2 separate regions of the Homo sapiens genome follow, and region 2 is linked to region 1. The links come from fine-mapping of genetic effects on gene expression. Tissue or cell type: whole blood. Region 1 holds a variant in brackets; the other region holds the start of a gene. All regions are shown on one strand. Distances are between the middles of the regions.

What was found. PIP is the estimated chance that this variant, and not a neighbour inherited with it, causes the effect.
Region 2: SV2A starts here. The variant in region 1 is fine-mapped to the expression of SV2A in whole blood (INTERVAL, PIP 0.94).

The regions. Positions count from the first base shown.
Region 1 is chr1:150,009,983-150,018,088 of GRCh38, reverse strand. OTUD7B (OTU deubiquitinase 7B) reads left to right here and starts at 7,363. Exons shown (of 12, transcript NM_020205.4): 1 at 7,363-7,641. LOC124904413 (a long non-coding RNA gene) reads right to left here and starts at 5,626. Exons shown (of 3, transcript XR_007066598.1): 1 at 5,564-5,626. RefSeq lists enhancers at 1-298, 299-958, 7,736-8,106 and silencers at 7,202-7,251, 7,512-7,801. The variant T/ATTTT (reference allele first, on the strand shown) is at 4,152.
Region 2 is chr1:149,913,438-149,921,538 of GRCh38, reverse strand. It overlaps SV2A (synaptic vesicle glycoprotein 2A), which reads left to right and starts at 3,695. Exons shown (of 13, transcript NM_014849.5): 1 at 3,695-3,800; 2 at 7,352-8,101. The coding sequence starts at 7,699. RefSeq lists a silencer at 3,782-3,851.

The sequences.
Region 1 (8,106 bases):
TTTTTCCAACTGAAAATAATGACTTCCATTGACATCTCTATGGTTGTTGCTATGCTTTGCAGGCTCGTCCATAGACCATAAGCAACATGGGAACAGCCACAGTGCTGATCAGGACAGTAATATGGAAATGGAGGGCACGTCAGTGAGAGATTCTAGTAGATGCCAATTAGATATAGTCACTGAACCCCAAAGCTCCCTGATGTGGGGAGAAAAAGCATGTCTTTATAATTTAGGAAATGTTCTTAGTATGTGGTACCTGTTGAGGTCAACCTGGGCCATTAGTCACAAAGAAAAAAGGGGAGTTAATGACAGTGTCAAGTAAATGCCCCAAAGCAATAACCAGAGCCTGATGTAGTGTCAATCTTCTATCCCCTGAATGCTCTGTCAGTTTCCAGTAGCCTGAGTTTGGCCTCCCTCCTAGTGCTGACCTAGTCAGGGGCAGAGTGACTTTGTCATTCCATTCCCAGGCCTCTCCTCATTGCCTGAGCTAAAGTGTTGGTAGTCTTAAGTACATGCTTCCTCCAAGCCTGGGGTGTGTCACCTGTGAGGTGGAGATTAAGCTGACCCACCTGACCTGCATTCCAATTAGGTAAGGTAGCACTTGCTCTCCTCATAGCCTAAGGAACTGGCTTCTTTTCTCTACCTACTTGTTGCTAGGCCTGTAATGGCCTTAGAAGCCCATTCTTACATCCTCAGGGGATTTGTCAGGACCATACTAGAAACACACCCAATCTTGCCAAGGGCCCTTTTTTAATCTCTTAACCCAGCTCTCCTGGGAAACTGTTACTTGCAATAATTGGGAGCTGATAAATCTTATTTACAATAAAGCACCTCCAGTGATTTTAGGGCCTGGAGGCAGGGATTTTCTTCTTAGGAGTTCTCCTAATGCCTAATCCTAGGAACACTTTAGGGAGTGCAGGAAGGTAAGATGGTGTCACTAAACTCCTCTCTTTTGACATTTTTATTATTGCTAAGTATTTTTCATTAATTGATTAAGCGGTTCACTTATGAGCAAATACTTGTGAAAATTAACAATTCAAGGCAATTGCTAAATTCCAGTTGACTGATAAACACATTTATAGTTTAGGATTTAACACAAAGACTTTAAAAGGAGGTGATACAGATTGGGCCTTGAACTCTCTCCAGAGAGAAAACTTAGAGACAGGGGAGACAGTTGGGTGGTAACATGGTGGTTTGCTGGAGTTAGCTCAAGCTGTCTCTTACTGACTTGCTAGAGCCGACTGCACATTTCCCAGCTCCTTGTTCAGCAACATCACATTGGTAGCATGAACTTATCAGTGGTAGAAATATTTGCACCATGAAAATTAGTAACTGCTGGCTGGGCATGGTGGCTTACTCCTGTAATCTCAGCACTTTGGGAGGCCAAGGCGGGTGGATCACCTGAGGTCAGGAGTTCAAGACCAGCCTGGTCAACATGGTGAAACCCCGTGTCTACTAAAAATACAAAATTAGCCAGGCGTGGTGGTGGGTGCCTCTAATCCCAGCTACTCAGGAGGCTGGGGCAGGAGAAGTTTGAACCCGGGAGGCAGAGGTTGCAGTGAGCCAGGATTGTGCCACTGCACTCCAGCCTTGGCGACAAAAGCGAGACTCTGTCTCAAAAAAAAAAAAAAAAAAAGAAAAAGAAAAGAGAAAGAAAATTAGTAAATGTTACAAATCAGGGCTTTTTCACCCTGGAGAACCGGTTGTTAATATTTACTAGCACACCACTGGTGGTCAAGGAAGTAGAACACAAATGTAGAAATGGAAATGTAGAAATGGAGTTAAGACCAGGCTGGGTTCCCTCTTACAAAGGAGATTAAGGAATTTTCAGTTTATCCATTGACACTGAGGTATTGTTGATGACATTTTACTCGTTGGGATTATTTTGGTTACAAGCAATAGAAAGACTAAATTTGAAATGGCTCAAAAAATAAGAAAGATGCATTTATCCCATATAACAAGAATTTCAAGTTGGACCACTCTGGGATAGGTTAATTCAGCAGGGCACCAAAGACCCAGATTCTTTTAATATTTTTGCTCTGTCATCCTCAGTATGTCAGTCTGGCCTCTGACCAGCACAACATTTCCAAATCCAACAACTTTCAGCAGCAGAGGAAAATAATTTATTCTTTCTTTTCATCTCTTTGTAAGAGCAAAGAAGACTTTCCCAAAAGCCTCCAGCGGATTTTCTCACATCTCGAATTGGTCAGAACTCTATCACATGCCTAGATCAAGCACTGGCAAGGGGAAGGGAGCCCCATGATCCATTAGTGTTTCACCCGTGTTCCTCCCACTCAGCCCCCGCCCCCTCTACTGAGGCCAATCTCCCCTGAAGCCATGTACAGCAGGCTGGTTACTTGAACCTAATCAAGGTTCTATAGGCATGGAGGAAGAAGGAGGATGGACATTGGTTAAGCAACCAACATGTTTGCTAGAGTTTTTGAAAAGAGAGAAAACATCCATGAAATAATTTAGGAAGTGGCCGGGCATGGTGGCTCACACTTGTAATGTCAGCACTTTGGGCTCACGCTTGTAATCTCAGCACTTTGGGATGCCGAGGAGGGTGGATCACTTGAGGTCAGGAGTTCAAGACCATCCTGGCCAACATCTCTACTAAAAGTACAAAAATTAGCCACGCGTGGTGTCACGTGCCTGTAATCCCAGGTACTCTGGAGGCTGAGGCACGAGAATTGCTTGAACCCGGGAGGTGGAGGTTGCAGTGAGCCGAGATTGCACCACTGCACTCCAGCCTGGGTGACAGAGCCAGACTCCATCTCAAAAAAAAACAAAAAAAAAAAGAGAAAGAAAAAAAGAAATTTAGGAACCATAATCTTAGCACTGGTGTGCAAGCAGATAGAGGGCCTGGGATTAGGGAGGCTCAGCTATACTATTACAAGATACTAAATATGAAATAATAATCTACCAAAGCAATGCTTTCATTTGCCAAATGGCTGCCAATTCATTCATTCATTCATTCACTTAATAGATATTTAATAAATGACTGTCGTGGGTCAGATACTATGCTAGGTACTATACACAAAATGGTAAACTTAGCTAATGGAGTGTCAGAATCTGATGGGTGAAGTAAATATCAATCAAATAATCCACAAGTAAATGTAAATGTTTAACCTGGTTAAATGTTATCAAGAAACCCTGGATTTTTTTTTAATTGAGGCAAAATTCACATATAGTGATCTTAAGTATACAATTTGATGTCTGTGTGTAACAGCCATCCTTATCAAGACACAGAACATTCTCATCACCTCAGAAAGTTCCCTCATGTCCCTTCCTATTTGATCTTCACCTCCCTCTAATAGGTAACCACAGTTCTGATTTTTATCTTCAAGATTACGTTCGCCTGTTCCTGAATTTCACATAAATGGCTTTTTTTGCACCACAAATGAGTCCAAGATTCATTCATATTGTTGTGTTTAATGATCATTTGTTTTTTAAATTTGTACTCCATTGTAAGAACAATATAAGTAATTTTCTGTTGGTGAACATTTAAAATGTTCTAGTTTGGAGCTATTATGAATAAAGCTATAGTGAACATTCACGTATAAGTTTTTTGTGTACACATATATTTCATTTCTATTGGGTAAATTCCTAGGGAGTGGAATTACTAGGTTTTAGGGTAGGAATGTGTTTAACATTATGAAACTTCCCCTCATACAGCTTTTTTTTTTTTTTTTGAGACACTTTCTCTCTGTCACCCAGGCTGGAGTGCAGTGGTGCAATCATGGTTCCCTGAGCCTCGATCTCCCAGACTCAAGTGATCCTCCCACCTTAGCCTCCCTAGTAGCTGGGACCACAGGCATGCACCACCATGCCTGACTAATTTTTTTTTATTTTTGTAGAAATGGGATCTCCTTATATTGCCCAGGCTGGTCTCAAACTCCTGTGCTCAAGCCATTCTCCTGCCTTGGCCTCCCAAAGTGCTGGGATTTCAGGCAGGATCCACCATGCCTGGCTGAGCCCCTACTATATATATATATATATATATACACACACACACACACACACACACACATATATATACACACACATATATACGTATATATACGTATATATGTGTGTGTATATATATGTGTGTATATATGTGTGTGTATATATATGTGTGTGTGTGTGTGTGTGTGTGTGTATATATATAT[T/ATTTT]ATTTTTTTTTTTTTTTGAGACAGAGTCTCACTCTGTTGCCCGGCTGGAGTGCAGTGGCGCGATCTCGTCTCACTGCAAGCTCCGCCTCCCGAGTTCACGTCATTCTCCTGCTTCAGCCTCCCAAGTAGCTGGGACTACAGGCGCCCGCCACCTCGCCTGGCTAATTTTTTGTAGTTTTAGTAGAGACAGGGTTTCACCGGGTTAGCCAGGATGGTCTCAATCTCCTGACCTCATGATCCGCCTGCCTCAGCCTCCCAAAGTGCTGGTATTACAAGCGTGAGCCACTGCTCCCAGCCGAGCCCTAGATATTTTTTTAAAAAATATGGATTCATGGTCTTCAGTTCCAAGAAAGAATTCTGCGTCAGTCTGAGGTTCCTAGGCATGTATAATATGTAGTTTTTAAAAACTCCCCAGAACCAATGGTCTAAATTATATTGGTGGCGGTGGAAAGGAAGTTATTTTGGTTTGGTTTTCTTTTCCACCACAAAAGCATATAAATGTAAATAGTTTTTTTCCCTGCCTAGCTACAACCTTTCTCTGAACATTTTCCCCAACTCTAGCCATTAGCCCCAGTATTGAAATAGTCTCTCTTTTTAGTTTCTCTGGTGAAATGCAAAGCTCTGGTTTTTCTGCTCTTGCTTAAAGTGATGTAAAAGCTCAGGGAGCTCCTTGAAGCAGCCCTTAGAATTGCTAAGACGAGTAAACAAAAACAGATCTCTAGGGTGGAAAAGAACTTTGGACAGAATAGCAGTTGAGGGTGTGTGGCCCTGTGTACACCGGTAGGATTTTGTCTGGTGCTTTTACCTTTTTTCCCTTACTATTCTACCTAGCAGCAAGAAATAGTCAACTGTGTTCTGGCTGCTGCCAATGTCTACATTAAACAGCTGCCTCTGAGCATCCAACCTAGTGCCAGCCTAAATGGCTGCATATCACTAGAGAAGAAGCCTCTAGTTTCTACGCAGAGAAACTGAGACACAGGAATGGGAAGGGAGTCACTTAATGGATTAGGGACTGGTTGAGCTGGGACCAGAACCCAGGTGGCCTGGCTCCCAGCCCAGCTGACCACACTGCTACCCACACAGCCTGGGCTGACCAAAGACAAGCAGCCCATTGAGCAACTGCACAAACAACAATGAATGATGGATGGTCAGAGCAAGAAATAGGCACAAAGCAACTGTGACCCCATCACTTCCTGGCCCCTAAATTTCCAGGCAAGCCTATAAAGTGTGGTCACTTAAATGACTTTGACCAGCAACTTGGCCCAGCTTTCAAATCTGGAGACCTTCTATGGTCACTGCCAAAAGAAAAAGTCTTATATTGAGGGTAGAGTGCCTTTGAGCTCCACGCCTGGTTCTATTAAGTCTGTGGCAGTGGCGTTAAGATTAGAAAGACATATTTATATGGGTATAACCTGGTTCTGGACAGCTGTGGTGAAACAAGGCAACTTTCAGATTTTGAGGCTCCTCTTCTACAGATCTGTGCTCCCATCTCAGATTTAACTAGCAAAGGGTAGGTGTGGTCAGTGATTGTTGTCACAATCATTCCAGAATGTTTGTGTAGAGTTACTAGAATTTCAGTCTTTTCATTCTAAAGTATTTTCATCCCTCTCACCTTTCTAGAACGACACCCTTTTCAGCTCCTTTCCAACGGCTGTAGCCAACTGATTCTACCCCAGAGTCCCAAGCGTCCACCCCCGTACCCTTCCAGTTCAGTTCAGTTAGAGTTCAGTTAGAGTCAATTTAGGTGACCAAATCTCATCCTGCTCTCCTCCTTAAATTTACCACTAAACGGTAGCTAAAATTTGTGGTCCCTTATACGCTTGAAGCCCACGCCAAATGACTTTACTTGTCAACCTCTATTGTATGTCTTGGATATGCCCCCATGCAAGGCACTCTGACTTGTTTGGCCTTAGCATGTGTGGACAGCCTTGGGCCCAGCCCTAAATTTTCGATTGTAAACCCAGGTGTATCCCTAAGAGATATAGCTGTCTAGGAAGTTTCCCTGTTTCAGGTGTCAGTTTCCTATTCTGAGCTAGACAATTCTAAAATGCCTATGCCCCACGCCTCCCCTTTAGAAACTGAGGAAGAAGTGAGGGGAAAGAAAAGTTGACTAGAGTATTTGTTTTTACATAGGCATAATGGGCACAATTAGGCAATACATTATTTTGAATATGCAGACCAGGTGCTATAATGTTAGGAATCTGAATTAAAATTTCAAATGTCTTTTGTTAGAGTATAGCCGGGGTTGGCATCGTTTTGTGTTTGTCATAAAGAGGTATTTACTAAATGGCCTTTCTTTCTTGAAACAGTCCACACAGGCCTAATACTTATTCATTCATTCAACAAATATGGAAGGTCTACTATGTGACAAGGATGGCTTATTATGTTCTCATAGCCATAGCTCATTGTCACTCAGGTAGGACACATACAAGTTCTGCTACATATAATATAGTTTTATGTATTTTACTAAATTGTAAAACCTTTGATGTCTGGGATTATGTCTTGTTAATTTTTGTATCCCCCTGTATCACTGAGAGCAGTGATACACATCACAGGGATACAATACATATTTGAATTATGCCATAATGTTTTAAAAGACATAACAAACGCACTAGAAGACATAACAAACGCACTATGTAAGTTTTTTTTACTGTTAGCAGTCTAAAGCAGATGTATCAACAGGGTATCACTGTTATGCAAGTAAATAAATATTAAGTGTTTACAGAGAAGGATATGTTCACTTCAAGAGTGAAGGAACAAGAGAAATATATAATTGGGTGGAGACTGGTGTGGAAGAAGCTAATCTTCCTCCGGTCACTCCAGAATGATTGTGTAGAGTTACTAGAATGTCAGTCTTTTCATTCTGAAGTATTTTCATCTCTCTCACCTTTCTACAACTACTCCACCCCTTTCAGCTCCTTCCCAACGGCTGTAGCCAACTGATTCTACCCCAGAGTCCTAAGAGTCCACCCTGTACTCCTCCAACTCCTGTTCAAGAATGCTCCAGACCAGGAGCTTTAGGGACTCGGGTCGGGAAAACACGGGGTCACGCGCGGGGCAAGCGCCAAACTGGCCGCAGCCTGGGGAGCGGCGCTAAAGGCGGGGCTGCGACGGGGCGGAGCGGGAGGAGGCCCGGGGGCGGCCTGGGTGTCACCACCAACCCGCTCCGGCCGGAAACTGGCGCCTGTTTCCGGCCGGACAGCAGAAAGCCACCGATCCTGAACCAGCCGCCGGAGCCGGAGTGGCGACCGGGTGCGGAGTGGGCAAAAAGCCACTGGGGGAGGCCAGTCCCGATCAGTCCTTTCTGGCTCCAGCTCCAGATCCCGTGCGGAGCAACAGCTGCGGTCGCAGTCTCCACCACCGCCTCCACCTCCATCGCCGTCGGGGGAGGGGCCGGCCGGACCCCGGGGTCACTGCCGAGGAATGAAGAGAGGCGGCCGGGCCCCGCGCTCCGCCCCGGCCTAGGGCCTTGCCCCGGGAGCCCGCGAGGGTAACGGAGCCCCCCGTCCTGACACCGTCCCCCGTCTGCTCCCGCCCCTCCCGGCTTCTCAGACTCGCAAACTCTGCTCCTCAGATCGCCACTGTCCCCTTTCTCCTTTCTGAATCTGTTTCACCCGAAGCCATCTCCCCTCGGCACTCCTTTCTCGCCCTGACTGCTCCTTGCTTCGTCCCGATCTTTCCTCCTCCCTTTCACCTGCGTCCTGCGTTCCTACCCCGCGCTCTCCAGCTCCCGGCCTCCCTTCCTGAGCTGTGCTGGCCAGTTTGGACGGTCCCCCCTTGTCAGCTAGACTTTCGGGAGGGATGGTGGAGTTTTAAGGTGATTAAGATGCAGTGTATTATCCCCACAGTAGGATAAAGTTCATTTAAAATCTCAATATAATACTAAAATGAAAAGCAAATAAGCTTATTCTTCCTATTGATAGCCAAACTAAGGTGCATACAGTAATGGAGGAAA
Region 2 (8,101 bases), 97 kb after region 1:
ACCAGCCTGGGCAACATGGTGAAACTCCGTCTCTACTAGAAATACCAAAAATTAGCCAGGTGCAGTGGTGGGCGCCTGTAATCCCAGCTACTCAGGAGGCTGAGACAGGAGAATCGCTTAAATCTGGTAGGTGGAGGTTGCAGTGAGCCGAGATCAAGCCATTGCACTCCAGCCTGGGCAACAAGAGCGAAACTGTCCCCCACCTCCCACCTTAAAAAAAGAAAAGTCCAGGAAAACTTCCTGGGAAAAAGGTGATACCTGCATTTAATCTTCAAGGAAGGATAGACCTTTCCCAGGCAAGGAGAAATTCAATCCAGGTGGATGGGATGTTTCTGAGGAGAAACAGATTGATAAATAGCATGGTGTATAATGCACTAGAGCTGTTTGGGATTGGAGGCAGGCTGAGGTCAGAGCCAGTTAGGGAGCTCCCAAAAACCATTTTTCAGCCCTTTTTCACATCATGGCAGGGAACCATTTGAAACAAAATTGAGGTAAGGGGAGGCAGCTGCTTCAGCCTGGAGGCTGTTGGCTCGGAAATTCTAGCTGCCCCAGTTTGATATGCTTATTAGATGTTCGTGTGGTGATATTGAATAGACAGAGATTTTGAGTCTGGGCTTGATGGGAAGGTCTGGACTGCAGATATAAATGGGAATCATCAGCATATAGGCAGTATTAAAGTCGGGACTGCCTGTGGTGAGCAAGAAGAGAGTAGAAGGCTTCCCGCCCCTGGGACTGAGCCCATAGGAACTCTAAAATTAAATGGCCCCAGCAAAGGGGACTACAAAGGAGTGGTTGGTGGGACAGGGCACTGGCACCTGGGGGAAAATGATGAGGTCTTCCCTCAGAACTTGAAAATATATACAGTCATTTGTGTATTCTCAAGGGATTGGTTCCAGGACCCTCCACAGATAATCAAAATTCACAAATGCTCAAATCTCTTATATAAAATGGCACATTTGCATATAACCTAGGCACATCCTCCAGTGTGTTTTAAATCATCTCTAGATTACTTGTGACACCTAATGCAGTGTAAATACTATGCAAGTAGTTGTTATACTGTATTGTTTAGGAAATAAATGTCAAGAGGAGAATGTCTATACATGTTCAGTACAAATGCAACCATCATAGGCCTAACTACATTTTCCATCCACAGTTGGTTGAATCCATGGATGCCAAACCCATGGATATGGAGGACTGATGGTATAAGTTTTCACTCTAAAAGTATGCAAGATTTCTATTTTAGCAAATAAGGTATCAGTGGAGAGTAGGCAAAGTCACCTTAAAGGGAAGAAATGGCTCCCTGCTGGCCAAATGCTCTCCTGCTGGACTTGGCTATAACCTAATTGAAAATGTTAACATATTTGGCTGGGTGCGGTGGCTCACGCCTGTAATCCCAGCACTTTGGGAGGCAGAGGTGAGTGGATCACTTGAGGTCCGGAGTTCGAGAGCAGCCTGGCCAACACGGTGAAACCCTGTCTCCATTAACAATACAAAAGTTAGCCAGGCGCAGTGGCTCACGCCTGTAATCCCAGCACTTTGGGAGGCTGAGGCGGGCGGATCACAAGGTCAGGAGATCGAGACCATCCTGGCTAACACAGTGAAACCCCGTCTCTCCTAAAAATACAAAAAATTAGCCGGGTGTGGTGGCGGGCACCTGTAGTCCCAGCTACTCGGGAGGCTGAGGCAGGAGAATGGCATGAACCCGGGAGGCGGAGCTTGCAGTGAGCCGAGATTGTGCCACTGCACTCCAGCCTGGGCGACGGAGCAAGACTCTGTCTCAAAAAAAAAAAAAAAAGTTAACTGGGTGTGGTGGCTCGTGCCTGTAGTCCCAGCTACTGGGAAGGCTGAGGCAGGAGAATCACTTGAACACCGGAGGTGGAGGTTACAGTGAGCTGAGATTGCGCCACTGCACTCCAGCCTGGGCGACAGAGTGAGACTCTGTCTCAAAAAAAAAAAAAAAAAGAAAAAGAATGTGTGTTAACCTGAAGACGGGTCAGCAATGAAAGTCTAGTAAAGGGAGAGTCCCTGAGGCCAGTCCAAGCACCATCCTGGAAAGCCGTCACATTCAGAGTAGTCCAGGAGTGCTGGCAAGGCTGCCAATAGCAAAGAGGTGGGGGTAGAAGATTGTTGCCAAGAAGAGTTTTCTGGACCCATTGGCATGGCTGCTTATTGCAGATGGCCAGATGCCATTAAAGATACAAATCCTCCAGTAATGTCATTGTGCATTTATACATTGACATTATGATTCTGATTTGGCTTCAGGGAGAGAATGTACTAGACATGTAGATATGAGTTTTCAGTCTGAGTGACAGTTAAATATTTATGATAAATTAATATTTATGTATTATGGCTTTATATTTCAGAAGATTGTGAACTTTGTTGGCATGAATGATTATTTCCAAGATCCAGCTTTGGAGTCTGCAAAGCCCAGGCCCGTGTCCCTGTCAGAGGTAAATTCAACCTGGCAAATGTTACCTGTGTGGTCTCTTCGGACATAGCCTGTCAGCCTTCTCCATGTATATATATCAGCATTCTGAAGCCTCCACATTTAGTAAGGCAGAATCACACGCTATTAGATCTGAGAGGGACCTGATGCAGTATCTAGTCCAAGCCCCCCTTTTCCAGATGAGAAACCTGAAGTTCACAGATGTGGAGAACTTGACCAAGAGTTGACAGCTTGTTAGCAGTGAGAACCCAGGTCCAAGCCCAGGTCAGTGCTGTCTGGAAGGTCCTGACCTTATCTGGCATAGACACATTCAGGATGTATTTCCCCAAATCACCATATTCCCTCTCACTCCTTCGGCAGGGATGGTCATCAAGTGTCACCAAGTGGCATGTCTTGGATCTCTGAGTCCAGGTTATTGATGCAAGAGCAAAGGAAAGATGAAGGGAAAAGCTGAAACAATTTACTTCTTCCTGCCCGGGAAGTACAAGTGTGTGGAGGGGAGGGGAGGGAGGTAGAGGAGAGTAAGAGAAAATGGAGAAGGGTATTGAGAGGATCCTTTTTGAGTCATTGGAGCAAATTAATGGAAGGGGAACTGTCCGGTTGGTCAGGTCTGTAAAAATCCCTCAACTTCCCCAGTACTTCTGCTACCACCAACTGAATGGACAGGATGAGGAGGTGTCCACTGTAAATAAGTAACCTGGACTGTTTTGTGAGGAAAGAGATGGAAGGAATCCAGGGGTCTCTGACTCTGGCAGTTCAGGATAGAAACCACACCTTGTTATCTCTGCTTTCTCTAAAATGTCCAGGTAAACTTGGAATAGGAGCACTCTGGATTTGGGAGACTGTTGTGAAAAAGGAGTTTGAGAGCAGTGGAGAAGGCAAGGGAGGTGTTTTGAAGGCAGCAAAAGCCCCTGAAATTATTGGGTCCTGCCATACTGAGACTGGGGTGCTAAGGAAGGGGCTGCCACATTCCCCATCTCCCTGTCTTCCCACTTGTCTTCCTAACATCACTGTTTTTTTCTTTAGTTCCTTCTATCTTTTACTAGGAAGGGCCTGGGAAGGGCTGGGTGCCATTTCCAGCTGTTCTTGTGACAACCTCCGGCCCTTTCATCATTTCTCCCCGTGCCCTGACTCCCTCCCCATCCTCTTTTCTCCTCTCCCCACCAATGGTCTCTCCCGATGCTCAGTGGCGCGGGGTAGGGGGGGGCGGAGGCGGGGCTGGAGTGGTGGAAGGGGGGTGGCAGGTCTGCATTGCCGCTTCCCTGGTGCCGGGAGCAGTCGCCGCTGCCGCCTCCGCCCGCGGCCGGGACCCCCGTCCTCGCCCGGGACTCCTTACCCGGGGAACCTAGACCAGGTGAGACCCCTTTCTCAGTCGCTCACCTCCTCCCCGCCCCTGGCAGAAGCATCTTTGCCTTGCCTTGCAGCCATTTTATCCTCCGATGCTTTGCTTATGGGGAGGGTGACGATCCCCTCTCTAGGGGTGAGGGGGGTTGGTGGGTTGGTGGTGGTTTGGGGATGGACATTTATTTCAGTTGTGCTCTTCAGGACACACACACACACACGCATATGTATAATATTGGTGAATGGGGAGGAGGGGTGTTTTTCTCTACCTTAACCAAGTCCCCACTATCCCCTTCGGAGATTAACGTGGTGGTGGGGTTGTGAGGTGGGATGAGGTTCCCTCAAACTCCTATCCCCTCCTCACCTTGACGTCCCCCCACCCCCAGGATGAATGATAAATGACCTTGGCTGGGGCTGGAGAATGGATGCTGCCTCAGTGTGCACGCCTGGACTTGGGTGGGTGGGGGGCAGGGGAAGAAGGGCAGGTGAAGGATGGAGGGAAGGGGAGTGAAGAATGGAAATACTGGGGAGACAGAGATGTAGAGCCGCCAGGTGTTGGGGGCATGGATGGCGGGGGCTGGCGGCAGTTGCTCCGGGGTGGGGGGAAGGGATGTTGAGTGAAGGTGGACACTTGTCTAGCAGCAGGACCAAGGGTGGAGGAGGTGCTCAGAGCAGGGATTTAGTCAGTTCTGGGGGCTTTTCCCTTATTCCGGAGCTGAGGCAAGATGGGGTGTGGGGGGGTCGCTGCAAATGCTGATAGGGGCGGTCTCTATGTCTGTGCATGCGGAGGTCTCTCCCTGCGTCCCCCTCTCTGCCTCTCCGTATTCCTCAGTGTGCATTCTCAGCTGACACCCTCATTTTTATCCCTCAGAACTGTGGGTGCTCCTATCTTCCTAACCTTGGTAGGATGTGGGGAGGGGAGGCGCAGTCTTGATGGTCCTGGGTGGGGGCTGAAGTTCGATGACCGGGCTGTCATGGGGAAGGGGTGCTCCCGCACCTCCCACATTCTACCCCCGCCCCCGCGGACGTTTTGATAAGTGATTGCTTTTTAATGACCTTGTCACCTGAGCTAGGAAGGCCTGGGGATCTGGGTGGACCCCAAAGTCAGGGGCTTTGACTGGGAGGGTGGGGGGTTCTGGACCCAGGGCTGGATGAGCTGTTCTGAAAGAAAGCATTTGCTCTGGAGTCCCCTGCCTGTCTCCACCCTCTGCAGAAAATCTCCTGGGCACATTTTTTCCTGTCAGGTGAAGTCAGCCAGCCTAGGACCTTGTAACCCTGAACCTTGTCTCCTTTAACCTCCACCTCTCCAAGTCTTGTCTCACTCCCCCAGGCTTAGCCACCCTGTGCTGTTTTGGGGGCTAAAAATAGCACCACTTCCTCACCAGCTCAAAGAATTTGTCTTCTTTCTTTCTCTCCTGACCTCCTGGGCTTGCTGGCCCTGAGGAAGCTGGCTGTTGAGACCTCATATCCTGCTGTGGTTGTGGAAGGCTTCCCTGCCCTACGTGCCCCTCTCAGGGGGAAATAGGGTCAACAAACATAGAGTATGGCTCCTGGTGGGTCCTGCCTCCTTCAGGGCTGGAGGGGAGATCCTGGTTAGGAAAGAGAGGAAAGCTAGCAAATTGCCATGCGCTGAGGGGATTCCGCAGTTCCAGCTCTTTCATGGGGGATGGTTGGGCCCTGAACCATGAAGAAAAGGTGACATAGGGGTCACTGCTTCTGGTCACCGTGGTCCACTGCTTACATCTGTCCTGAGGGGATAAGGCGCTGCTTGCCAGTGCTTCTCTCTGAACCACATAGCATTGCTTACCGTCTTCTACCAGGGCGTGTGTGTGTGTGTGCGTGTGTGTGTGTGTGTGTGTGTTTTAATGAAGGCCCTGGATGGGTGGGAGCACCGGAGGCAGGATATTTTTAGGGGGATGATTTCTGATCAGAATCTAGGCCTGCTTCCTCTGCTCCTATGAAGGAAGGGGGCTATCCCATGCCTTCCTCTGGAGAATGTCTTTTTTGGGGGGACACCCAAACCCCCTTTATTCTACATCCGCCTCCTACGCAATGCGGTGTTTGTGGACTCCTTCTTCCTTGACTCCTGGAGGAGGAGCAGAAAGGATTAAGGGGGATTAGGAAGGGAGGCCCTGGAGGGATGGGATGCAACTGTAGGCCTTAGAACCTCATGTTGGAAATGTATGCATTTGACAGTCATTTCCATTCTCACCCCCATCTGTGGAAAGGGGGCCTATCTATGACATTCTGAAGCAAGGTGGCAGTGGACAGTCATCACCTCTTTCTTAGCTTTCCATCTTTCCTCCACTTTACTTGGGTTCCAGGTCCCCCTTTTCTGGATCTTCCCTTGTTCTTCTGGAGGTAGTTAATGTGGGCCCAGCTACTGGAATTAGTTGAAACATAGATAGGGGTGTCTTGGGACTCTGTTTGCAAGGATGCTGGGCAACAGCATCTAAGTATGACCCCCCTGTTGTCCCTTGCTGCTTCCTGTTTCTTTCCCACTTTCAACATCATAGGAAGGAAGAAAACTAACATAGAGTATCTACTGTGAGATTACATTCTCACATCAACTCCAAGAAACAGTCTCCCAATTTAATTATCCCCAGTTAAAATAGATGGACACTGAGGCTTAGGGAGGTTAACTACCCTGACTGAGATCAGTTAGTAAGTGGCAGAGTTGGGATTTCAACTTAGGTCACCCCTAACAGTCATGTGCTTTGCCCTGAACCAGGATTCTCCTTGCCAGTGTCCCTTCCTGCTGCTCACCCTAAAGAGCATCCAAGATAGCTTTCATCTGGGGACCTTATGAGGTAGTATAGGGCATTTCACTATATTACTGTCACCACAAAATTAATAATTAATATTTATTCATCATTTTTATGTGCCAGGTGACTTATGGTAAGGAGCATAGATACATTATATCATTCGACCCTTACTTTCCCCTTTTTAAACAAGAAGAAACTGAGGCTTGGTCCCTTAGCTAGTATTTGCCAAAACAGGAAGTCAACCCCATGTCTTTGTGACTCTGGAAGCTGAGCATTTACCCATTAGACTATGTTGAGAGAAAATCCCTCCTTGTTGAAGCCTGTAAACATGGGACCTGAGGGAAGGACAGTGGAAGCCCCTGCCTTCAGATGCCATCAGAGGAGGGAAGGCCACAGGTTGGAGGGCTTGTCCTCTTACACATCCTCCTCAACTCCACCCCTAGTAAGAAACCCAGGCAAGACTAAAGAAGGGAATTCTGGTTTCTCATATTTCCTGTTTAGTTCTTTGCAGATTGGTGATAAAGCAAGGGCTGGGGTGGGTTTGGGGGTAGGTGACTGCGACTTTGGAGCAAATTCCACAGGCCAGGCCTCCAAGGTCAAAGTAAGGGGACTTCTATGTGAGTGACCCGGTTAGCCCAGATAGCCATCCCTTTTTAGTGTGTGGATGGGAGCCTAAAGCGAGAAGACCATCTCTGCACCACATGGTCCAGATGGGGCTCTGGGTTGAGAGGCTTTATACTGGCCTTCTTCACCACCTTAGGACTCACAACTTCCTTTTGCTGTCTGTTATTTTTTCTAGGTCTCCAGAGGCTTGTGGAAGAGAAGCAGGCGACCCTTCCTGAGTTATCCTGGCTTAGCCTCCCAATCTGGCTCCCCTTCCCCTTCCCATTCCCCTGCTCCCCCTGTCCCTTCCCCATCCACCCAACTGAACTGGGTATAGGTCAAAGCTCCTCTCCTTCCTTTTCCTTCCTAGGCACTCATTGGCTAGGACCTGTTTGCTCTTTTTTTTGTGCCCAGAGATACTGGAACACGCTTCATCTAAGTAACTGTGGGGAGGGGTCTTTTTGACTCTACAAGTCCTTGAGCAAAAAGCTGAAAAAGAAGCAGGAGGTGGAGAAGACCCAGTGAAGTGCCCCAAGCCCCATCATGGAAGAGGGCTTCCGAGACCGGGCAGCTTTCATCCGTGGGGCCAAAGACATTGCTAAGGAAGTCAAAAAGCATGCGGCCAAGAAGGTGGTGAAGGGCCTGGACAGAGTCCAGGACGAATATTCCCGAAGATCGTACTCCCGCTTTGAGGAGGAGGATGATGATGATGACTTCCCTGCTCCCAGTGATGGTTATTACCGAGGAGAAGGGACCCAGGATGAGGAGGAAGGTGGTGCATCCAGTGATGCTACTGAGGGCCATGACGAGGATGATGAGATCTATGAAGGGGAATATCAGGGCATTCCCCGGGCAGAGTCTGGGGGCAAAGGCGAGCGGATGGCAGATGGGGCGCCCCTGGCTGGAGTAAGGGGGGGCTTGAGTGATGGGGAGGGTCCCCCTGGGG